Linked DNA regions of Homo sapiens. The protein of the gene in region 1 purifies or fractionates together with the protein of each later gene. This does not show direct contact. Each region holds a gene or a part of one and is shown in the gene's direction. Other genes may lie near its edges.

Region 1 (4,124 bases):
CAAAGAAGTAAAGTCAATTATCTATGCTTTTATCATAAGAACCCTGAAAAAGAAGAGTAAAATAAACCCAAAGTTAATAAACATTTAAGCCAATAATAAAAATAATGAAAATCATGAAATAGAAAAATGAACAAACAATAGAGACAATCAGTGGTCAATTTTTCTGTACTCCATGAACAAAACTTCAGTTCAGAATGATTTTATATTTAAATATATATCCAGAATCACAAAGATCTTAGAAGAAAAAATTAGGAAAATATAGGAATAAAGTGGGAACTCTGTGGGAATAAAAATCAGAAAGTAATTGCCTACCAGGTAAACTCGGGGGAGGGCAGGCAATTGACTAAGAACAGGCAGATAAAACTTTCTGGAGTGAAGGAAATGGTGGTCTTCTTTTCGTTGGTACTTACATGGACATATATAACTGTCAAGGTTCATTGACAATGAACACTTAAGTGTACACTGAACGCTTAAGATCTGGGCCTTGTAATGCCCAGATTACATCTACTTAAAAAAACTACATCTCTATTTTTTTAAGTAGAGAAAAGTGTCTTGGGGAGTTTATGGCAGTGATGTTTGGGCAGACTGGGGCATAGGTTTCAGAAGCATTCATAGCATCTTCAGTTCAACAATTTGCTAAGAATGGTTTTGCAGCCAAAAATGTAAGATGAGTGCAAATATCTATGATTAGAGTCATTGGGCATACAACTACAAATCCCCACACTTGTATTACAGGCCATATGATTAATTCGTTATCACTAGATACCTTTCCTTCAATGAGGTTCTTCCATTAGGAACCCAGAGCTCTCCAGGGAAAAATTGCAATTGAGGTTTTGGATATATTGGGTGGAAAAGAAAGTCACCTCACATAAAACTTAGTGATTGGAGCTGTCACCATTGAAAATTTCTAAACTTTGCAAGACAGCAGTGACGTTTCAAATGACACTCTCAGAGAGTTGATAATGGGCTAAAATAGATCTCCCTCCAGGTGGATTTACTGTACAAGGACAACATTTACATTGCACTTGGAGACTTCTCCCAGTTTGGTTTAAGTTCACAGATTGCAGATCCCAGACAGCTGGTATCAACTGACCAGTGTTCTGTTAAGGCTAAAGCCAAGACTCTTTATCACACTGTGGCCTTAAGATTGGATTTCTCTTCCTGTTCCTGGGAAGAATTAGAGATATAACCTAAAGGTCACTATTATTCTGAGAAAAGGGATTCTGGAGGAGGAGGGAGCAATGAGTATGTGGCAGGAGTTCAAGGTAATAAGGGCTGAGACACAAGCCACAGAGCATAAAGCTCCAGTCCTTCCTCCAGGGATGAGGCAGTAAGGACTTGGACTCCTCTGTCCAGCTTTTAACAATCTAAGTTACGGTTAGAGCTTTCTCCTTTTCTTTCAACTACTCCTGGCAGTTGTGGGGTCATGGAATTTTTGTAAAAAATGGGGTGGAGGAAAATAAGGCATCTGCTGAGTGTATAACCATTTTACCTCTTGTTTTTAGCCCTCTTCTGGGTCACGCTAGAATCAGATCTGCTCTCCAGCATCTTCTGTTTCCTGGCAAGTGTTTCCTGCTACTTTGGATTGGCCACGATGGGCTGGAGCTGCCTTGTGACAGGAGCAGGAGGGCTTCTGGGTCAGAGGATCGTCCGCCTGTTGGTGGAAGAGAAGGAACTGAAGGAGATCAGGGCCTTGGACAAGGCCTTCAGACCAGAATTGAGAGAGGAATTTTCTAGTAAGTAAACTTGAGTCATGGGTCTGTGGCTCCATCTTAAACTCTGCATGGGTGTGGGGAGGTTGACCTTGTCTAGCAAGTTAAGGAAAGTTGTAGCCAAATGAAAGCCAGTCACACATCTAAAGTCATCAGAAAGGAAATAGAATAAAATGGTATAGTGTGAAAGATACTGGATGGGGTGTCCAGAGACTGGATTCTGGCCCTGACGCAGAACTTGAGAGGCAGCCATGTCAGCCTCAAGGCCCCTTTTCTTCTCTTCTAGAGAGTCACACATGAGTTCTCCTTCTTGTCTACAACTCTTATGTTCTGAAGCTTTTTGTCTTGGCGATTGCTGTGCGACATTCACAAAGGACATCATTTACCTGGAGACCTCACCAGTGGGTCCTGCCTGTCTAGACTGCCCCAGGCTTCATTTCATTTTATAGCTTCCTTAGTATCTTTAGTGAGGGCAAAATAAAAGGAAGTGAAGGTACGGATGTGTGTGTAATTGTGTGTGTGTGTCAGACAGAGAAAGAAAATGAGGGGGAAAGAAGGTCAGAGACAGAGAATGAGAAAGACAGAGAATGAATGAGAAAGATAGTGTGAGGGAGAGCATCAGCAAGAGAGAGAGAGTGAAAGTGAGAGAGATCATCAGTGAGAGAGAGAGAAAGAGAGAAAGAGAGCATGCACAAGTGCACGGCACAGAGCAGAGACAGAGTAAAAGGCAGTATGAGGCCAACATGCCTCATTTATATTTCTCATATATAGCCTTTTTAAAAAAAAACCATTTGTATCTGTTGTTCAATACTCCAAATAAATTGACTGCAGAATTTGCTGTAGTAACTCTTTGTGCAAATAACCCTGTGAGGAAGGTAGAAAAGGGGTCACCTCCAACTGGACAATGAACCCATCAAGTTCCAGAAACATAAAGTTACTTGCCAAGAACAGCTGATTAATGTGTAGCAGAGCTCAGACCAGAGCTTCATTCCAGAAGCTTCATCACTTGACCCCCGGGCTAATCCTTGGTGGGTCTTCAGTCTCTCCCTTTGCCTCTCTGTGTGCCCCAAACCAATTCCATGTTTTCCTCCCAACCCAGGGGACTGGGGGAACTATGTATCTTCTTCATGCAGGTTCTGGCTGCCTAGAAGGTCCTGCCCTGTTCACACAGAAGCTCCCCTTGACACTCTCCTCTTCTTTCACTCTTCTCTGACCTCTTTAAATGTCCAATTTCCTCCACTCTCTGTTCTAATAGTGAACAGATATTAACACATGACTGATATTAAATGTTTGTAATCCTTATGTCTCAGCAATATTTACAATCTAACATCTGATACCAGGAAAAAGCAATGCTCAGTCTAGAGGAAGAGTTCTGCTATGGTGAAAATGCAGGGAGCATAATGGATGGGCAGGGCCTGTATGAAGATAAAAACAGAGAATCCTTTCAGTGTTCTTTCTGTGCCAGGCACTGTGCTAAAGGTTTTGCATGTGCTGACTCATTTACTTCCCATAACAACCCTATGAGATGGGTAATACTATTATCCTCCTTTTTTATAGATGAGGAGACAGACACAGAGAGGTTAATCAACTTGTCGAAGGTCCCAAGTTAGATTACGGCAAAGCTGGATTTGAATCCAGGCAGTCTAGTGCAGCTTCTGTGCTCTTAAGTAGTAGTTTGTCTAGCAGCTTCTCTGAGCCTCCCTCCAGCCCAACACACAACACAAAAGCAACTGAATTTAGTCTACATGAAACACTTGCCAAGTCCACAGTGCCTTGGAGAAGGAGGGAGCTAAGACTCCATCAAAAATTGCGCTTTTCTGGTCTCTCTAGATCCATGGAAACTCACCGGGGAAGAGTCATTTTCTATCGGCTTTGGACTTCTGCTATGAAATGGCAATTCCTTTGAGCCAGTCTGTCTAAAGTCGGCAGCAAAGGAGAAGCAGATGAAGGGAGTAGAAAAGGTAGAGGTGGAAATACAACCAGAGAAAATTCCACTCTCGGGCTGACACCCACCTCCTCCCCAGCAGCCTCTTCCCTGCCTCCACCATTCCAGGGCCTTCTTGGAGTTGCCTGACAGTGGGAAGGGGCTGGGAGTAGACAAAACAAGGCAGAGGCATCAGAAGAGCAAATGGTCCCACCTGTATCCCAGGAAGGAATTTCTCCAGCCTTGAATTTTTCATTCTGAATTTCGCTCTCACTGTTCTTTGGCCTTTGTGGGCATTTTCAGTTAAACTGGCTTATTCTTACTCTTTCTCAGAAAAGTTGATTCTAAACAGCTATTCCTGCACCTGGGGTACAGGGTACAAAAATGGCAGGTGGAATGGGCAGGTTTGAGCCTTCACTAGAAAATTGACTTTAGATCTGTCCCTTAACCTCTCTGAGCCTCAGTTTCCTCACCAATAAAGTGGGACT
Region 2 (3,500 bases), on another chromosome or scaffold:
TGCTAGGATTACAGGCCTGAGCCACCGCGCCCAGCCTTGTTTTTATTTTTTTTTTTGAGACGGAGTCTTGCTCTGTTGCCCAGGCTGGAATGCAGTGGCACAATCTTGCCTCACTGCAACCTCTGTCCCCCAGGTTCAAGCGATTCTCCTGTCTCAGCCTCCCGAGTAGCTGGGATTAGAGGTGCACGTCAACACACCCAGCTAATTTTTGTACTTTTAGTAAAGATGGGGTTTCATCATGTTGACCAGGCTGGTCTCGAACTCCTGACCTCAAGTGATCCACCCACCTTGGCCTCTCAAAGTACTGGGATTACTGTCGTGAGCCACTGCGCCTGGCCTCTCGTTGTCTTTTATCAGTTTTACGTGCTTGACGTGTAGGTATAGAGCCTGTCTGCAAAAGAAAATTACTGTATGTGAAGTCTGATAAAGTAACTGATTGGTATCTATCTACACCCCATCCCCGCCCCAACACACACAGAAATACAGGAGGATTGAGAAATGAATTTTGAGGAGTCATGTAAAGAAAGATAGAAGGTTAAATCTAAGTTGCTTGTAGCTAAGCAGGATTTTATATTTTGGGTGCAAGAATTTAAGAAGAAAGTAATGTGTTTAAATGCTTAGAAAGGAAGGATCAGAATGTAGGAAGTGGGACCAGCAGTAGTGAAACTAGTGAGGAAAAGTTTCCCTCAGCCCATATGGGCAATTTCCCTTGGTTCCTGTGGAGCATTTGGCTACAGACACAGAAGCAAAAGCATTTAATCAAAGTGTTTAAGAACTGGGTTTTTGGCTGGGTGTGGTGGCTCACACCTGTAATGTCAGCACTTTTGGGAGGTCAAGGTAGGGGGATCACTTGAGCCCAGGAGTTTGAGACTAGCCTGAGCAACATAGGGAGGCCCTGTCTCTACAAGTAATAAAAAGCATTAGACAGGTGTGATGGCACATGCCTGTGGTCCCAGCTACTTGGGAGGCTGAGGCAGGAGAACCGTCTGAGTTTGGGGGTCATGGCTGCAGTAAGCCATGGTTGTTTCACTGCACTCCAGTCTGGGTGACAGCGTAAGACTGTCTCAAAAGAAAAAAAAAAAAAAAAAGAAAAGAAATGAGTTTTGGGGCCTGGCACGGTGGCTCAAGCACTTTAGGACGCCGAGGCGGAATTATCACTTGAGGTCAGGAGTTTGAGACCAGCCTGGACAACATAGACCCTTTCTCTACCAAAAAAAAAAGGTTTGTTTGTTGGATTATTTTTTTTTTTTGGAGACAGAGTCTTGCTCTTTTACCCAGGATGGAGTGCAGTGGCGTAGTCAAGGCTTTCTGCAGCCTCAACCTTTCAGTCTCAAGCGAGCCCCCTACTTCAGCCCCCAAGTAGCTAGGACCACAGGTGCATACCACCATGTTTGGCAAATTTTTAAAACTCTTTTTGTAGACCCTGGGTCTCACTATTTTGTCCGGGCTGTTCTTGAACTCCTGGGATTACAGGCATGAGCCAGCTTGCCCGGCCAAAAAATATTTTTAAAATTAACTGGGCATGGTGGCATGCACCTGTAGTCCTAGTTACTCAGGAGGCTGAGGCAGGAGGATTGCTTGAGCCCAGGAGTTCAAAGCTGCATGAGCTGTGATGGCACCACTGCACAACTCTTGCTCTCTTCACCACTGTGAAAAGTCTTGCTCAGTTGCTCAGGCTGGAGTCTTAAAAAAAAAAATAATAAATGGGTTTTTAAGCATTAGTTTGCTCATTCATTTATCACTGAGAGGCATTATGCTACATAATGAAAATACAAAGAAAAGTAAATCCTAGTTTTTGCTCTTGAGAAACTCAGTCTGATAGAGAAGAAAATGTATGAAAAGTTATCATATACAAACCTGTGTGAATCAATATTTTGGGAATACAGGGGGAAATCAGTGAAGGCTTCAAAAAGGAACTGACTAAATTTAAAAGGTACTAATGTCCGTCTGACCCACAGGCACCTGTTTGTGAAGTTTAACAGTGGTTATGTTTTGGAGAGAAGGCAAGGGAGTATGTTCTTGTAGCATTGCAGCAAACCACATCTATGGATGGTGGATGATTTAATCAGTCTTTGAAAAGGGTTATGGCAGCTGTTTTCAATGTGATAAAGCTTAATTGTAATCATGAAGATTATTTTGGAAAGAACCCATTTTAGTGATAATCCAACGTAAGAAGCTACTCAGAAGCAATTGAAAGGATTAGGTTGACTGGAAAATTATAAAACTGCCTAAATGTTCATATCGAGGTGATGTTTCTGGGGAGAAACACACCATTTTGTAGCCTCATGACTCATCAGTACACATGGTATTTGTCTCACTGGGGAACTCACTGTCTAAGTGGAACAAGGTTTTCCTTTTTCTTTTTGTTCTTTTTTTTTTTTGAGGTGGAGTCTCGCTGTGTCACCCAGGCTGGAGTGCAGTGGTGCAGTCTTGGCTCACTGAAACCTCTGCCTCTGGGTTCAAGCGATTTTCCTGCCTCAGCCTCCCAAGTAGCTGGGATTACAGGCGTGTGCCACCACGCCCAGCTAATTTTTGTATTTTTAATAGAGACGGGGTTTCACCATTTTGCCCAGGCTGGATTTGAACTCTACTGGCCTCAAGTGATCTGCCTCTCTTGGCCTCCCAAAGTGCTGGGATTACAGCTGTGAGCCACCATGCCCAGTGAAACAGAGTTTTTCAAGCATTCTCTCTCTCTATCTCTAGTTTTGGTTGAAAGCTGTCATTCTCTGGTGTGAACCTGGGAGGTGGAGCTTGCAGTGAGCCGAGATTGCACCATTGCCCTCCAGCCTGGGTGACAGAGCAAGACTCCGTCTCAAAAAAGAAAGCTGTCATTCTCTGGTCCCATCCCTTCATCCCTCTCCTTATACCAAGATCATTGCTTTTCATTTATTGTACTGAGCTATAATGGGTATTTTCTCTATTAAAAATATTGCTTAATATTTAAAATGAGAATCAAAGATAAAATGTTTAGTTCAAAAAAAAGGCATACTTGTCACTTTACTAAATTGTAAAATTTTTAACTTCTTTTTAATCTGTATGCAGGCAATTTTTTTTCCATCACATAAAGGTCACTGAGATACTGTGTCATTTATTTAGACCCCAAATTTTGTTTTTACAGCATGATAGTAGTATTGTTACTTTGAAAGGATTGTTCTTGATTTCTTTTTGGGGTGTTTGTGCGTATTTCAGTACTTCCAGCGGCAATGTAAGCAACAGAAAGGATGAGACAAATGCTCGAGATACTTATGTTTCATCCTTTCCTCGGGCACCAAGCACTTCTGATTCTGTGCGGTTGAAGTGTAGGGAGATGCTTGCTGCAGCTCTTCGAACAGGGGGTAAGTCCAGTGCATGTTATTTCTCAGTCCTTTGGTCACCACCCACAACCACTGCCATCTCCAACTCCATATTGCTGTTTGATGAGTGTTACCCTGTGGATAGCCCACCCACTGCTGCTTAGCTTGGGGAGAAGTTGTTGCTGATACGGGTCTGTTAAGGGGGAG
Region 3 (3,500 bases), on another chromosome or scaffold:
ATTAAATGAGAAAGTACTGAAAGACAAGCGTAAAAAGCTGCGTGAAACCTTTGAACGTATTCTACGACTCTATGAAAAAGAGAATCCAGATATTTACAAAGAATTGAGAAAGCTAGAAGTAGAATATGAACAGAAGAGGGCTCAACTTAGCCAATATTTTGATGCTGTCAAGGTAATCAAGGTTTTTTTTTTGAGAGATAAACTAAAATATTATACAGATTGAGTATCCCTTATGCAAAGTGCTTGGGACCAGAAGTGTTTTGGATTTAGGGTTGTTGGGTTTTTTTTATATTTTGTTTTGTTTTTGTGTATATTTGCATATATTTTGGGGATGGAACCCTAGTCTAAGCATGAAATTTATGTTTCATATACACATAGCCTGAAGATAATTTTATAAATTTTGTGCATGAAACAAAACTACGACCCATCACATTAGGTCAGGTGTGGATTTTTCCACCATGGCATCATATGGGAGTCAAAAAGTTTAGGATTTTGGAGCATTTTAGATATTCAGATTAGGGATGCTCAGCCTATACTTAGATTTAAAAAGTTAATGGGAGAATGTCATGTTGAACCTCTTCCTTATAGCAGTTTCTTCTAAAACTAAACATATACCTACTGTGTGAACCTGCAAATCTAATCCTCTTTATTTAAACAGAAGAAATTAATTCAAAAACTTGGATCAGCCTAAGTGTTCACTAATAGGATAATGGATAATTAAACTGTAGCATATTTATACAATAGAATACTATTCAGCAATAAAAGGAATAATCTAATACTCAAAACAGCATGGAATAAAAAAAGAAAAATTGTGAGTAAATCTCAAAAACATGCTAAGTTTATCTCATTGTTATGATTTCATTTTTATGAAATTCTAGAATAGTCACAGATAATCTGTGCAGGAAAAAAAAATGTAGCCGTGGTTGCCTTGGGGGATGATATTAGAGATGGATTGGGAAGGAGTATGAGGTATATGCATTTGTCAAAACTTACTGAATTTGTAAATTTCGTAAATTTTACCTCAAAATAAAGATGGGAAAAAATCAAATGCTATAATTTCTGTAAAGGAGGTAATATGTCTCCCATTTTACAGATGAAGGCACAGGTTACCTTGCTTAGTCAAACTAAGCTAATACACAACAGAAATTCAACATAGGCAAGCTAATGAGCCCAACCTCCACCACTGGATATATACTATTTGTTAGTTGACATATATTATTTTTCTTTTTTTTGTTTATTTTTTGTTTTTGAGACCGAGTCTCACTCTGTTGCCCAAGCTGGAGTGCAGTGGCACCATCTTGGCTCACTGCAACCTCTGCCTCCCAGGTTCAAGCAATTCTCCTCCCTCAGCCTCCTGAGTAGCTGGGACTACAGGCACACGCCACCACAACTGGCTAATTTTTGTAGTTTTATTAGAGATGGAGTTTCACCATATTGGCCAGGCTGGTCTCAAACTCCTGAGCTTGTGATCGACCTGCGTCAGCCTCCCAAAATGCTCGGATTACAGGTGTGAGCTACCACGCCCAGCCTGACATGTATTTTTCTATCACATGTTAAATAGGGTAGTTCTGGTGCTAGATACTTGTAACAGTTGGCTTTCTCTAGACAACAGCTGTTTCGAATCATCCAAAAAGAATTACCTGATAAGAGGAGAAAAAAAACAGCTGGGTTCTGACGTTTTTAGAAGTAAAGATTTCTTTCAGTTCTTTGACAATGTGGAAGTATTGACGTAAGGTTATTTTTCTGGGGGTTTTTGGTGATATTTATGTTAGTTGGAAAGCATGTCCAAGTTACGAAACAGCTGACTTGTCATTTTTAGTGTTTAGTTAGTAGATGACTTTTTTATCATACTACTGAATGGTTCTCTGTTTCAGAATGCTCAGCATGTGGAAGTGGAGAGTATTCCTTTGCCAGATATGCCACATGCTCCTTCCAACATTTTGATCCAGGACATTCCACTTCCTGGTGCCCAGCCACCCTCTATCCTAAAGAAAACCTCAGCCTATGGGTAAGGAAGCAGTGTCACAATCAGAGAGCATTTAGTAAAGGCACAAGTTGACTGTCCAGTGCCAAAATTAATGCAGAGGGAAATAAAAGACAATATGGATGTAAACAGTGTGACATTTGATTAAATGTAAAATAAGAAATCCCTTGAAAATTGTTTAGAAGAGAAAATAAATATCTCATTACTGTTAAGTGATTACTGTGGGGGTTTTTTTGTTTTTGTTTTTTTTTTTAACAGACCTCCAACTCGGGCAGTTTCTATCCTTCCTCTTCTTGGACATGGTGTTCCACGTTTGCCCCCTGGCAGAAAACCTCCTGGCCCTCCCCCTGGTCCACCTCCTCCTCAAGTCGTGCAGATGTATGGCCGTAAAGTGGGTTTTGCCCTAGATCTTCCCCCTCGTAGGCGAGATGAAGACATGTTATATAGTCCTGAACTTGGTGAGAAGTGACTGTTCTTTTGCTTTTATAACTATCATTTTTTATGTTGGCCCTGTTTAACATATTGTTCACCACCCTCAGAACTTAGAAAGTAAATGAGAGGGTATCATGTACATAACTAATATACATACAGTTGGATAAATCATAGGATCTTCTCAAGTAAAAGCATCATACATAAGTATAGAAATGTTTATCGTGTTTTAAATTAGGCTTTTCCTGGAGATGTCACTCTTGCTGCTAATCCTTTAAGACTTGTATATCTGGTTCCCTTTTAGCTTTATTGTCATCAGACTAGAGCGTCATTGTATACATTCACTGACTGTGTATGTGTATACAAACATGATTGTTGCTAAAGGAGGAAATGGGTTTTCAAATTAGAACTCTTTTTAAAAAAATCTTAAATTACCAAAAAGAAGTGTTTAAAATTATTGGCAGAGGAAAATTTTGTTAGACTGTATGAGTAGCTATATATACAAGAATTTTTTTTTTTTTTTTTTGGTAAGAATTAAGTTGTTACAGTCTGAGTTGAATAGCATAATTTTCTGTATTTCTGGGTACCATGTAGTGGAGGGTCCAATCATACTACTTCTCCATGTTCCCTTCCCACTTTTCAGCCCAGCGAGGTCATGATGATGATGTTTCTAGCACCAGTGAAGATGATGGCTATCCTGAGGACATGGATCAAGATAAGCATGATGACAGTACTGATGACAGTGACACCGACAAATCAGATGGAGAAAGTGACGGGGATGAATTTGTGCACCGTGATAATGGTGAGAGAGACAACAATGAAGAAAAGAAGTCAGGTATGTGCAGATGAAGGATTCATGGTATTGATCAATAAAGAGAAAACAAGCTGAAGGTCCTAATTTATTAATGAATCTGTGAGAGTACTCTGAAATCTTTGGAAGTCGGGATCATAGCTGTGTTCATCTTATATATTAAAATTTTGAAAGTTTTTGACACAGTAAGTACTCAGTGGATGTTTATGAGGAAAAGCATTAAACTGTATGTAATAAAAATGTCTATGTAATAAAGTTCACTTTGGGGTAAAAGGT
Region 4 (3,500 bases), on another chromosome or scaffold:
TGAGCCCAGGAGTTCAAGGCTGCAGGGAGCCGTGACTGTACCACTGCATTCCAGCCTGGGCAAAGTCAAATAAATCAAAATGAACAAAAGGCTGAGCACGGTGGCTCATGCCTGTAATCCCAGCACTTTGGGAGGCCAAGGCGGGCGGATCACCTGAGGTCGGCAGTTTGAGACCAGCCTGGCCAACATGGTGAATGAAACCCTGTCTCTACTAAAAAAAAAAAATTAGCTGGGCATGGTGGTGGGCACCTGTAATTCCAGCTACTCAGGAGGCTGAGGCAGGAGAATCAATTAAACCCAGGAGGTGGAGGTTGCAGTGAGCCGAGATCACGCCATTGCACTCTAGCCTGGGCGCAAGAGCGAAACTCCAAAAACCAACAACAAAAAAAGGTATCAGTATAAATCCCTGATTTACTACTCATTTATTTTCCCCTGTTCCTGTTACAGGTAGTCCAGGGGATCCTGCTCATCTCAGCTGTGCCAGCACCCTGGGGTTGAGGAACTGCCTGTGAGTAAATCAGTATCACTCTGCACCTGTCTGTTTGAAAACAGGGTTTGAAAATGGTGGAGAGTCACGAGTGACTCTTGATTTTTGAGGGAAACAGTGTATCCTACTTTCCTGTTCTTTGTTTCTTTTAAACCTTTATCTTTCCATTTTGAAAATGATTGTCACATGCCTCAGTGAATCTATAGACAGTATAGAAACATTCCTAACCTCAGTGCCCAGTTGCACTTGGAGAGCTGGGGACAGAAGGCTTCCTGTCCCCTAACAGGAATTAAATGGAATTTAATTGTTGGACTCCCAGTTGGAGTGGGCACTGGCAACTGTGCCCTCAAAGTGCCCAGTGTCAGTATTTTGATGTACAGCAAGTCTCATTTAATGTCTGTAGGTTCTTGGAAACTGCGACTTTTTTTTTTTCTTTTTTTTTTTTTTTTTTTTTGAGACAGAGCCTTGCTCTGTCACCCAGACTGGAGTGCAGTGGCACATGCTTGGCTCACTGCAACCTCCGCCTCCCAGGTTCAAGTGATTCTCCTGCTTCAACCTCCCGAGTAGCTGGGATTGCAGGCATGCCTCACTGCGCCTGGCTAATTTTTTTTTTTTTTTTTTTGAGACGGAGTCTCGCTCTGTCACCCAGGCTGGAGTGCAGTGGCGCAATATCAGCTCACTGCAAGATCCACCTCCCGGGTTCATGCCATCCTCCTGCCTCAGCCTCCCAAGTAGCTGGAACTACAGGCGCCCGCCACCACGCCCGGCTAATTTTTTGTATTTTTAGTAGAGATGGGGTTTCACCGTGTTAGCCAGGATGGTCTCAATCTCCTGACCTCGTGATCCGCCCGCCATGGCCTCCCAAAGTGCTGGGATTACAGGCATGAGCCACCGCGTCCGGCCGCACCTGGCTAATTTTTGTATTTTTATTAGAGACGGGGTTTCACCATGTTGGCCAGGCTGGTCTTGAACTCCTGACCTCCCGTGATCTGCCTGCCTTAGCCTCCCAAAGTGCTGGGATTATAGGTGTGAGCCACCATGCCTGGCAGAAACTGCAACTTTAAGGTCCACGAATAACGTTTTATTATAACTTTGGATGAGAAAAGAAATTGGTTTTCTTATGTCTTTTTCCTTAAGGTTGCATTTTCTTTTTTTTTTTTATTTTTATTTTTTTTGAGACAGAGTCTCGCGCTGTCACCAAGCTGGAATGCAGTGGCGTGATCTCTGCCCACTGCAATCTCCACCTCCCGGGTTCAAGCAGTTATCTGCCTCAGCCTCCCAAGTAGCTGGGATTACAGGCGCGCACACCACACCCAGCTAATTTTTTTTTTTTTTTTTTTTTTTTGAGACCGAGTTTTGTTCTTGTCACCTAGGCTAGAGTGCAGTGGTGCAATCTCGGCTCACTGCAACCTCTGCCTCCCGGGTTCAAGCGATTCTCCTGCCTCAGCCTCCCTAGTAGCTGGGATTAGAGACGCCGCCACCACACCCAGCTAATTTTTGCATTTTTAGTACAAAAGTACAAAATTTTCACCACATTAGCCAGGCTCATCTCAAACTCCTGACCTCAGATGATCCACCTACCTCGGCCTCCCAAAGTGCTGGGATTACAGGTGTGAGCCACTGCGCCTAGCTGCTCCCGTTATTTTCTTTAGTGAGTTCTCCAGCAGTTGTTCCTCCCTGGGGACCAGTTCCCCCAAACCTCGTCAGTCTGGACCTTCCTTCTAGATGAGCTGAACCATTTTACTTCTAAAACAGTCTTTTTGGGATTGTATCTGAAGTGTCATTAAACCAGTTGGGAAGGAATATTACTTTTTTTTTTTTTTTTGAGACAGGATCTCATTCTGTTCATTGCCCAGGCTAGAGTGCAGTGGTGCAATCATGGCTCACTGCAGCTTTGATCTCCCAGGCTCAAGCCATTCTCCCACCTTAGCCTCCTGAGTAGCTGGGACTACAGGCATTACCAACATGCCTTGCTAAATTTTTTTCTTTTTGGTATTTTTTGTAGAGACAGGTTCTCACTATGTTGTCCAGGCTGCTCTTGAACTCCTGGACTCAAGCAGTCCTCCTGCCTTTGGCCTCCCAAAGTGCTGGGATTACAGGTGTGAGCCACTGCACCCGGCCTGTTTTCTTTGTATAGGCCACATGCATTGCATTTTAGATAATTCCCAGATGTTTATTATTTTCATTAATTCTTTTCATTATCTTTTCTAAGTGATCATTGCTGTCCCGTAAGTTGCTAAGTTGTACAATTTTCTTGTATCTGGCCCCTTTCCTGTTATTTGTTCAGCTCTTGTAGCAGCCCAGGTTTAGTTTATGGCTGTGATCTTAGTACATAGTAATCATCTGCCTCTTCTTTCCCAGGGCTTCTGCTTCTGAGGTGGTTTCATTTCTTAGCTCAGTAGCCAGATCTGTGTCAGAACAGCTGTAGTCAGTCATGCGGTATCACAATAGCAGAAAATACAGGATCTAGTGTTTGTGACATATGATGTTAGCTTTTGGGTTTAAGTAATCTTTGTTCTGTCTGTTACTCTTTTTATTAGGAATGGATGTTGAATTTGTCAAGCAACTTTTTAGCATTTAAATTTCATACTAAAACATAAATGCTGGCCGGGCACGGTGGCTCACACCTGTAATCCCAACACTTTTGGAGGCTGAGTCGGGAAGATCACGAGGTCAAGAGTTCAAGACCAGCCTAGCCAACATGGTGAAACCCCATCTCTAATAAAAATACAAAAATCAGCTGGGCATGGTGGTATGTTCTTGTAATCCCAGCTACTCAGGAGGCTGAGGCAGGAGAATTGCTTGAACCGGGACCCGGGAGGTGGCAGTTGCAGTGAGCCAAGATGGCGCCACTGTACTCCAGCCTGGGCTAACAACAAAACATAAAAGCTGTACTTTATTCACGTAACTTTTTTTAAAGTTCCCAATTTTGAACATCTACTTAAAAATTTAAACAATGAGGACTGTACAGCTGTTTTGATGGACTTGTCTACTTATCAAGAATTATGGATGA
Region 5 (3,500 bases), on another chromosome or scaffold:
AGTGATTGGTTAGGAGGCTCTATTTTTAAGTTAGTGTTTTGTCATTTGTAACGAATAAGTATCTTTTGGTAGTATGCACTGGGACTATGTAAATATCTTAGTACTCTTCAAAGTTATTACCTGCTGCTTTTATATTTTATGATGATACTTGCCTGAATCAGTTATTAGTATGATGGTTGCCAAATGCATGTTGATTATCCTTAATCCAAAAATTTGAAACCCAAAATGCTCCTAAGTCTGAAACTTTTTGAGAGCCAACATGACGTTAACAGGGAAATATTCATTGGAACATTTCCGATTTCAGATTTTCAGATTAGGAACATTCACCTGGTTATACATATAGTCCAAAATCCAAAAAAATCCGGAATCTGAAACACTTCTGGTCTCAAACATTTCAGATAAAGCATAGTCAGCCTATAGTGATTTTCTTTTGCCATCATTCCTTCTACTGTAAGGAGAAGTTTTCCCTTTTCTCACATTTTGGTATTTCTTTCCAATGGAAGGGTTTTTTTTTAAACTATCTAATAGAATAAAACATTTCTCAGGGCAGAGAGGTACTTGTTTTACCATCAAATATGGTTCTTGTGAGAGAAACAGAAGACCTACAAGGACTGTAATGTGTATGTGTATTAAACTTATATTTTAATAATAGATTAGAAGGCAGAAGAAAGGCATTGGAACTTAAGTTGAATACAAAAGTGAATGATAAACTTATAAAACAGGGTTATGCAAACAAATACTAATATGGAATTTGCAGCATGAAAAGTACAACAATCCTGTGTCTACTAACCCTCCTGCCCCAAAAGAGGAAATGAAAAGGTCAGTGTGACCAGGATACTGAGAGAAGAATCATATGTCACGTGAGAAATGCTAAAGATTGATAGGCATATTTCCCTTGGAGAAGACTGTAGAAACAATATTGTCTTTAAATGTTTTAGGAATAGGCATATAGAATACCATATGTAATATTTTTGGGTTGGTCCAAAGGGTAGAGTTAGAGATTTAGATTTTGAGTTACTTTTAAAATTTTTCTGGAGTTATTAGTGAACTTGATGTTCCAGAAGATACTCACATGGGTTAGGCATGTGGCTCACGCCTGTAATCCCAGCACTTTGGAAGGCCGAGGTGGGCAGATCACCTGAGGTCAGGAGTTCAAGACCAGCCTGTCTAACATGGCAAAACCCTGTCTCTTCTAAAAATACAAAAATTAGCCGGGTGTGGTGGTGCACTCCTATAATCCCAGCTACTTGGGAGGCTGAGGCAGGAGAATCAGTTAAACCTGGGAGGCGGATGTTGCAGTGTGCCAAGATTGCATCACTGCACTCCAGCCTGAGTGACACAGCAAGACTCCGTCTCTCAAAAAAAAGAAAAAAAAAAAGATGTTCACGTGAAGACTGGATGACTATCTGTCAGAGCTTTGTGTTTCAAATGACAGTTTTTTCCAAATAACCTCAAAAAGCTTGTTTTCATTTCTCTAGGATTATGTTTTTATTTCTGCAAATCCTAGACATTCTCTTAGGGAAGGACAAGGTGATTTCCTATCCTTAGTTTGATAGTTACTATTAGATATCTAAAATATTTTAGTTAAAATTTTATACACTGATTCTCAACTTTGATCTTTATTTATATATTTTTTTAAATTATAGCCATGAAAAATGTTATATGTATACTTGAGGTTTCTCTTTAACATCTTAAAAATCCCTGTTTCTTTCATTTTGTATTTTCTGCTAGGTAATTCTGTTCCACAGGATATCTGCTGTATGGCAGCTGATGGCAGATTAGTCTTTGCTGCTTATGGAAATGTTTTCTCTGCATTTGCCCGTAATAAAGAGGTTGGTATCGCTAAACTACTTGTTTGTCAGTCAGTATTTGTTTGTCATGATAGTGGAGGGAACTTTAATTTTGTCATTCTTTACCCAGCACACTCTGGAACTATACAGTATTCTTTTTTTTCTAATGTATATTCAGTTTTCTGGAGGAAGATAAATTTTCAGAAAAGGCTTACTTAAAACTGGTGCTTTACTTCAGTTTCTTTGCCAGAGATGAATATCAAAATTACTTGGAGACCTTCTTCAAAATTTTTTATGCCGTTAGTTCCCATCTCAGGAGTTTTCTATTTTGTATATTTGTTGAGATAGGACATAATGTGTATTATTAAGTGTAGTTTTAAAATACTTTCCTAGAAAATTCATATTTGCACCACCACTTTATGTGGATTGGTTATTTATTATGTATAACTTAGCTTATAACTCTTTTTCTAAAAATCAGATGCCTGTTCGCTGTTTAGAGAAAGCTAGATTCTATGTTTTCTCCACTGCTAAGGAAAGATCTTTTCTGGTCTAAATCTACCAGTTGGTTTCTGAATTTGTCCTGGAACAACTAGCTTGAGAAGTGACCTGGCCTTAATGGTCTAGAATGAAAGGAAATGTAGGAATGGGGGTACAAAGATAGCCAAATGATAGTATCACTGTACTTGTCAGGGACTTGGAGTGAGGTGGTTCCCACAGTCTTTCATCATCACTTCCTGTGGCAGAGGAAGGTAACTTATCTGTAGAGTTCTTTAATGGAAGGTGTTCAGATTTTTAGAATTGGAAAAAATGTTCATTTTTGTATTGTTGTTTATAGTTTTCCCAGGGAGATATATGTGATTTACATGAGGAGACTTTATCCTATATGTATAACCTATATGTGGTTCAGATGTGGAGACTTTAATAAAGGACCTTTATGCACAGGTGTGGTCAGGGTTAGGGGAACAAAATAGGGGTGGGGAGGCGTCAGACACTGTCAACTGTAGGAAGTTGTTACCACCCCTAAGGCCAAAGGGCCAAGGAGAGGAAACAGTGTTACTGGAATCTAGTGAGAACTGAAACCATGGAGAAGGGGCTATACTTATGGAGGGATCAGCTACTGTAAGGATCTCTGTCAAAGCAGAAGGGTATGGGGAAGAAGACCCTATATCCCCCTTTCCCATCTCATCTGAAAGCCAGTTGGTGATGGAGTCTTTAGAGATCAGCCTTCTGGAATATACCATCTCGCTAGGATATATGTAGTTGCACTGATTGAATTGGGTGAGGGAACTAGGTGTGTGTGCATGCCTCCTCTCTAACCCAAGATGGAAGGCAGAGCCTCAGAGGTCTCATTTCTTTGTTCTTAATGGACAGTTTACTTCCTTATTGTTGAACTGGCTGAGGGAGCAGATGAACATGCCTGGTCCCTTAATATTTATGTGTTCATCCTAACCTTGAATAATCAAAAGTTGGGGTACATTTCTTAACAGAAGCATCTCAGGATTAGCATGTTTTTGGGATAATATGAATAATATGACATGATGACTGAGTAATAATATGAAATTCTTTTAAACTTCGATGTTTTAGATAGTACATACCTTTAAGGGTCATAAGGCAGAAATCCATTTCTTGCAACCCTTTGGAGACCACATTATCTCTGTTGATACTGATGGCATTCTTATTATTTGGCACATATATTCAGAAGGTAAGAGT
Region 6 (2,692 bases), on another chromosome or scaffold:
CACTTTGGGAGGCTGAGGCGGGTGGATTATTTGAGGTCAGGAGTTCAAAACCAGCCCGGCCGACATGGCGAAACCCCATCTCTAGTAAAAATACAAAAATCAGCTGGCGTGGTGGCGGGCATCTGTAATCCCAGCTACTCGGGAGGCTGAGGCAGGAAAATCACTTGAACCCAGGAGGTGGAGGTTGCAGGGAGCTGAGATCATGCCACTGCATTCCAGCCTGGGTGACAGAATGAGACTCTGACTCATACACAAACAAGAAATCAGCAGGGGCAAAATGTGCATGAGGCAGAGTACAGGAAAGAAAAGGTGAAAATATCCAGTTTTCCTCTCCCAGTGGAATCATGTGGACAGGGCTTCATTCTCCCAGCAGCAATGTGTGACAACATGCATGGTGTACTGCCAACCAGGGAAGCTCTTCTGAGCCTGGGTATCCAGGATTTTTATTGTGGCTCAGAACTAGCTAACCACCTGTGTGGCTGACCTCAGTCTTCAGCCCCTCTAGAGGTCCACCTGATGCTGCATGGCCCAAGACCCCCACCATAAATTACGTTGTTACTACCTGGTGTGGCCCAAGGCCGTCCTCAGGCAAACAAAGACAGTCTTATCAAGGCAGGACACTCCAAGGGCTTAGAGGGCATATTCCAGGAGCTGGACAAAGGCCAGATCTTTCCTTGGACCAGGTTAACCCATCATGCATAGGATGACACCATCTCAACCTGCCACCTTACAATCAGGAGAAGCTGTGGCTGGGCGCAGTGGCTCATGCCTATAATCCCAGCACTTTGGGAGGCCGAGCAGATCACTTGAGGCCAGGAGTTCGAGACCAACCTGGCCAACATGGTGAAACACTGTCTCTCCTAAAAATACAAAAATTAGCCAGGCATGGTGGCATATGCCTGTAATCCCAGCTACTTGGGAGGCTGAGGTGGGAGAAACACTTGAAACAAGGAGGTGGAGGTTGCAGTGAGCCGAGGTTGTGCCACTGCACTCCAGCCTGGGCAACAGAGTGAGATTCCATCTCAAAAGGAAAAGAAAAGAGAGAAGCTGGGATGGGAGCTGGTGCCAGGGCAGGGGGGTGTCTGGGCCAGAGTTATGAAGACTTGAGCCATGCAGGCACCTCCCGGTAATGACAGCTGCTCCCTCCAGCCCCACCAAGGCCAGCCTGTATGGAGCCATCCTCTTCACCCTCCAGCAGACCCGCTGGCTCCCAGTGTCCAAAGCCAGCCTCATCTTCATCTTCACCTTGTTCATGGTGTCCTGTAAGGTAAGCCTTTCTCTTCTTGCAGCATTCTTGCCTTGACCAATGCCACCCTGCCACCTCCAGGTTGGGAGTGGGGAAATTGGACACTCCCAGCCTTATGTGGCTGGGACAGGCAGCCCAGAGAGGGGAGATGCTTGCCAGTAGGTCACTGGGAAGAGAGTTTAAAAGGCAGTGTCCAGCAGCCAGGACACAGATGAGAGGAACAGGCCTTCTGTGTAAAGGACCCAGCCTGAGCCAGGGTCAAGGTGGGCCCACTCTCTTGGGTACAGAGACCAGAGGGACAAGAAGCTGAAATGGCAGCATCAGGTACCCAGGAACTCAGTTGGACCAGGAATACTTCTAGTCTGACAGTCATGCCTTGAGTTGACATCACCCCACCCAGGAGGGGTCTTCAGGGGCTGGGCTCTCTCCCTCTGCATGAAGATCTTAGCTCAGGGCTGTGTCTTCCCTGGGTGAGGACTCCAGGGCTGTCAAAAGGGAGTGAGCATGTCTTCCTGCATTAGGCGAGAAGGGAGAGGCAAGCAGATGGCTGGGATCCTGTCCTGCTATGTTTGTAGCTCTACCCCAGGCCAAATGTCTTAGTCCATTCAGGCTGCTGTATAACAGAATGCAGTACCATAGACTGGGTGGCTTAGAAACAACAGAAATTTATTCCTGGGCAGGCACGGGGGCTCATGCCAACACTTCAGGGGGCCAAGGCAGGCAGATCACTTGAGGCCAGGAGTTCAAGACCAGCCTGGGCAACATGGCGAAACCCCATCTCTCCTAAAAATACAAAAATTAGCCAGGCGTGGGGTCACATGCCTGTAATCCCAGCTACTCGGGAGGCTGAGGCAGGAGAATCGCTTGAACCCGGGAGGTGGAGGTTGCAGTGAGCTAAGATCGCACCACCGCACTCCAGCCTGGGCAACAAATTGAGACTCTGTCTCAAAAACAAACAAACAGGCAAACAAAATACAAATACAAAAATTAACCAGGCGTGGTGGCGCATGCCTGTAATCCCAGCTACTTGGATGGCTGAGGCATGAGAATTGCTTGAACCCAGGAGGTGGAGGCTGCAGTGACCTGAGATCATGCCATTGCACTCCAGTTTGGGCAACAGAGTGAGACCCTGTCTCCAAAAAAAGGAAAAGGAAGAAATGTATTTCTTACAGTTCTGGAGGCTGGGAAGTCCAAGATCAGGGTACTAGCCTGGTCGGGTTCTGGTGAGGGCCCTCTTTACTGGTTGCAGATAGGCAGCATCTCACTGTGTCCTCGCATGGTGGAAGGGACTGGTTAGCTCTCCTGGGCCTCTTTATAAGGGCACTAATGTCTTTCCTGAGGGCTCCACCCTTATGATCTAATTACCCCTCCAAAGGCCTTACCTCCTAATACCATCACCTTTGTGATAGGTTTCAACATATGAATTTGGGAGGACACAGACCTTCA
Region 7 (3,500 bases), on another chromosome or scaffold:
GGCCAAGCCCAGAAGTGGTCCGCAAGATGGGAGACAAGGTGGAGGCCCGGGCCATCGCCATTGCTGCGGGTGAATATAACGGGCAAGCAAGGGGTGGCCCCGCAGCTCCTGGAGAGGGTCCAGCAGGGAGGGGTGGCAGGGATTCCCGCCTGTTACAGAGACTCCCCCACACCTTTCTCCCAACAGGTGTTCCCGTTGTCCCTGGCACAGATGCCCCCATCACGTCCCTGCATGAGGCCCACGAGTTCTCCAACACCTACGGCTTCCCCATCATCTTCAAGGCGGCCTATGGGGGTGGAGGGCGTGGCATGAGGGTGGTGCACAGCTACGAGGTGAGTGAAGATGCCCAGGGCTGGGAGCAGGGCAGGGCAGCCTGCCGTGGGGGCAGGGGCGGACCACTCAAGGGATCTGGAAAGTGGGTGGGGTTCATGGCAGGGGAGAGGTAGCGCTGTGGGGTCTGAGGTCTGGCTGGCCCCTGCCCGCCCTCGCAGGAGCTGGAGGAGAATTACACCCGGGCCTACTCAGAGGCTCTGGCCGCCTTTGGGAATGGGGCGCTGTTTGTGGAGAAGTTCATCGAGAAGCCACGGCACATCGAGGTGCAGATCTTGGGTGAGTGGTCCTGACGCCCCGCCTGGGGCAGCTGGAGGCGGGAGCTGAGAGGCCCAGTCCTGGTGCCGTCACAGTGGCTGGCCTTGGGGACAGCCCTGGGGCCTGTCGGGCGCTTTTCCAGAGGACTCTGGAAAGTGGGCTCTAGGGGCCGAGCTGGCAGTTGGTCCTCACAGCCTTGGTGATGCTGGTGTCTCTCCTGGCAGCCTCTGTACCGCTGGCAGCCGGCACTGACTGGCGACAGTGGTTATGTGGGGGTGATGGGGCATTTAGGAGGCGTGTAGATTCCAGTAAAAGCTAAGCCCAGTTTACCTCCCTCCCCAGGGGACCAGTATGGGAACATCCTGCACCTGTACGAGCGAGACTGCTCCATCCAGCGGCGGCACCAGAAGGTGGTCGAGATTGCCCCCGCCGCCCACCTGGACCCGCAGCTTCGGACTCGGCTCACCAGCGACTCTGTGAAACTCGCTAAACAGGTGAAGGGTGGGCTTCCCGTGTTGGGACAGGAGCCTGTGCTCACAGGCCGGCAGGCCTCACAGTGGGGCGCTGGTTGGGGAAGGGGACCCTGAGTCCCCTTCTGGGGACTGGGGATGGGGAGAAGAGGGTGAAGGACTCTCCTGGGGGCCAGAAGTGGGTTTGTGGCATCCTTCCCATGTGCAGTTGAGGCACCTGGCCCAGAGGCCAAGCTTAGAGTCCAGGATGGCTGAGAAGAGGGAGGGAAGGAGCCCCAGCCGCCTCCTCAGCCCTGCTGCTACACAGACCTGGCTTCTCTGTGGCATCAGCTCATCCCTGTCATCAGGAGAATGAGATTCCGTGGATTCTGTCAAGATTGAGGACCATTATGAAGGCAGTCCTCCCTCATGTGCTTCTGTCTCCTACATCATGTTTATTATGATCTGTTTCCTTGCTCTGCACCCTCTGCCCATCTCTGCTTTTCTGGGACCTCTGGTCGGGGGGTCCTGGGCTGTGGAGGAGGCTGAGGTGGCAAGCTATCTCCCCACAGTGACCTGCCCCAGGACTGGCCTGGAGAGCACCTGCTGTGGCCAGGTGTGCAGCGGGGTCCTGCCCCCTCTTCTTCCCTGGCCTATAGGCAGCAGAGGATGCGTCACCTCCCCATGCCGAAGGCCGGGGTGTGCACTCTGCAGCAAGGCCTCAGCCACAGCTAATGCGAGGCATCGACCAGGGTCGCGTTTAAGTCAGGTCTTATTTACTGGCTTATACTATTTCACATTCCAGAACAGGTTTAAGGGAGGTGATTCAGTCTGGTTTATCGTTTTGGTGAGACCAAAAGTGAAACTGGAATTAGGGCTGAAATTTGAGTTAGAGTCATTATCTGTTGGTACCTCTCAAATGAATTTCTTTGGGTGGTGGTGGCCAGAGGTGACTGCGCAGTAGACTAGAAGGGGACTTTCTGAAAACACCTCCAAGCAGAAGCAGCGGCTGGGAGAGGCCTGGGTCTCCGTGTCTGGGTGGATGACACAGCCTTGGCGGGCAAGCCCAGGAGGCAGCAGGGCAAGGTGCCGAGCCTGGGATGGGTGGGGGCTTCTGCCCATGTCTCGTCCCAGATAAGCTGGGTGCAGCCATCTGTGGCTCCGGGAACCCTGGAGCCTAGTGGACTACTTGGGGGACGTGTCCAGGCAGGAGCATGACCTGGGCCCTGGGGTCTGTCTGCCATCTGTGGGGGCAGGGTTTGCCACAGGCCATTCTTTTACGGAACCAACCCAATGGGTGGGACGGAATCCCTGTCCTGAGTCCAGTGAGTTTGCCCAGGCCCTGCCTGTGCCCTCCCCTGCTCACGTGGCCGCCCCCACAGGTGGGCTACGAGAACGCAGGCACCGTGGAGTTCCTGGTGGACAGGCACGGCAAGCACTACTTCATCGAGGTCAACTCCCGCCTGCAGGTGGAGCACACGGTCACAGAGGAGATCACCGAGTGAGTGTGGGCGGGCAGGCGGGGCGGGAGGCGCGGCTTCTAGGATTTGCATAAAGTACAGGCGAAGTGGCTCCTGGGGCCAGCCAGGGGGCTTGCTCACTCCCCACATTGGTGGAGAGCAATGGGGATCCAGGTACTTAGTGTTTTAAAAGTCATTATTCTAAAAGCATTACGTGGTTATTATAAAAATCAGCACAAAGGAGCAAATAAAAATGACTGACAGCCCTCCTCTCTGTCAGGACGCTGCCGATTGCTCAGGCCCAGGTGCTCCCATCTGTCAGAGGAGTAAAGCAAGGCTCAGAGACATTTGGAGAGTTGCTCGGGGTCACACAGCTGGCGCTGGAACCCAGGCATCTCCGGCTGTCTTTGGTTTGCTCCTTTCCCGGTTTACCTGTTTTACTAGAGACATAGTTTGATGCAATAGAGATGTTTTATATAGAATTTTTATTCTACTTTTCAAATTATTTAATATTTGTTGAAGGCATTTCCCCAGGCCATAATTCTGTCTGAATACTTTTAGTGGCTGCGTACTATTCCGTCTTGTGTGTATTTCTTAACTTACATAGTCCTCGATTGTTAGGCAATTAGTTTGTGTGTCTGGCTTTGGTGGTTATTAAGCGTGTCACTTATCATCTGTGTGCCTGAATGTTTGGCTTCAGCTCTGAAGAGTTCTGAGGGTAAACCCTTCAACAGGATTATCTGATTGAAGGATAAGTAGCATCCCTCGGAACAGCCCTCTAGAGAGGTGGCACTAGCGTGCTCCCTGCAGGCACTGAGGATGACATTTTCAAAATCCGCCTGGTTTCTAAATGACAGTCATGATGGCCCTCACCCTTCAAGGTCTCTACTATGAGCCATGTAATTTCTTGACGCTGCTTTGGGCCAGCCCATCTCACTGTGGAGCATCCCTGACCCCAGTTCTGCCCCCAGCCCCAACCCCACCTGAGACTGAGGATGCTGTC

The links.
Region 2: the proteins of HSD3B2 (region 1) and TCEA1 purify together in Homo sapiens (affinity purification with mass spectrometry; one large-scale study listed by BioGRID and IntAct). This does not show direct contact.
Region 3: the proteins of HSD3B2 (region 1) and WBP11 purify together in Homo sapiens (affinity purification with mass spectrometry; one large-scale study listed by BioGRID and IntAct). This does not show direct contact.
Region 4: the proteins of HSD3B2 (region 1) and LETM1 purify together in Homo sapiens (affinity purification with mass spectrometry; one large-scale study listed by BioGRID and IntAct). This does not show direct contact.
Region 5: the proteins of HSD3B2 (region 1) and WDR36 purify together in Homo sapiens (affinity purification with mass spectrometry; one large-scale study listed by BioGRID and IntAct). This does not show direct contact.
Region 6: the proteins of HSD3B2 (region 1) and TMEM38A purify together in Homo sapiens (affinity purification with mass spectrometry; 2 studies listed by BioGRID and IntAct, with this or other methods). This does not show direct contact.
Region 7: the proteins of HSD3B2 (region 1) and PC purify together in Homo sapiens (affinity purification with mass spectrometry; 2 studies listed by BioGRID and IntAct, with this or other methods). This does not show direct contact.

The regions. Positions count from the first base shown.
Region 1 is NC_000001.11:119,413,826-119,417,949, forward strand, and holds the start of HSD3B2 (3 beta-hydroxysteroid dehydrogenase/Delta 5-->4-isomerase type 2), read left to right. Parts: upstream 1-1,324; 5' UTR 1,325-1,377; intron 1,378-1,505; 5' UTR 1,506-1,594; coding exon 1,595-1,736; intron 1,737-4,124. UniProt on the Homo sapiens protein: 3-beta-HSD is a bifunctional enzyme, that catalyzes the oxidative conversion of Delta(5)-ene-3-beta-hydroxy steroid, and the oxidative conversion of ketosteroids.
Region 2 is NC_000008.11:53,987,949-53,991,448, reverse strand, and holds part of TCEA1 (transcription elongation factor A protein 1), read left to right. Parts: intron 1-3,189; coding exon 3,190-3,335; intron 3,336-3,500. Other genes in the region: LYPLA1-TCEA1 readthrough, read left to right, coding at 3,190-3,335.
Region 3 is NC_000012.12:14,793,479-14,796,978, reverse strand, and holds part of WBP11 (WW domain-binding protein 11), read left to right. Parts: coding exon 1-172; intron 173-1,874; coding exon 1,875-2,008; intron 2,009-2,242; coding exon 2,243-2,442; intron 2,443-3,056; coding exon 3,057-3,248; intron 3,249-3,500. UniProt on the Homo sapiens protein: Activates pre-mRNA splicing. May inhibit PP1 phosphatase activity.
Region 4 is NC_000004.12:1,846,157-1,849,656, reverse strand, and holds part of LETM1 (mitochondrial proton/calcium exchanger protein precursor), read left to right. Parts: intron 1-447; coding exon 448-508; intron 509-3,500. UniProt on the Homo sapiens protein: Plays an important role in maintenance of mitochondrial morphology and in mediating either calcium or potassium/proton antiport. Mediates proton-dependent calcium efflux from mitochondrion.
Region 5 is NC_000005.10:111,095,348-111,098,847, forward strand, and holds part of WDR36 (WD repeat-containing protein 36), read left to right. Parts: intron 1-1,731; coding exon 1,732-1,832; intron 1,833-3,374; coding exon 3,375-3,492; intron 3,493-3,500. UniProt on the Homo sapiens protein: Part of the small subunit (SSU) processome, first precursor of the small eukaryotic ribosomal subunit.
Region 6 is NC_000019.10:16,685,139-16,687,830, forward strand, and holds part of TMEM38A (trimeric intracellular cation channel type A), read left to right. Parts: intron 1-1,149; coding exon 1,150-1,267; intron 1,268-2,692. UniProt on the Homo sapiens protein: Intracellular monovalent cation channel required for maintenance of rapid intracellular calcium release. Acts as a potassium counter-ion channel that functions in synchronization with calcium release from intracellular stores.
Region 7 is NC_000011.10:66,867,884-66,871,383, reverse strand, and holds part of PC (pyruvate carboxylase, mitochondrial precursor), read left to right. Parts: coding exon 1-69; intron 70-186; coding exon 187-332; intron 333-491; coding exon 492-609; intron 610-930; coding exon 931-1,082; intron 1,083-2,419; coding exon 2,420-2,538; intron 2,539-3,500. UniProt on the Homo sapiens protein: Pyruvate carboxylase catalyzes a 2-step reaction, involving the ATP-dependent carboxylation of the covalently attached biotin in the first step and the transfer of the carboxyl group to pyruvate in the second.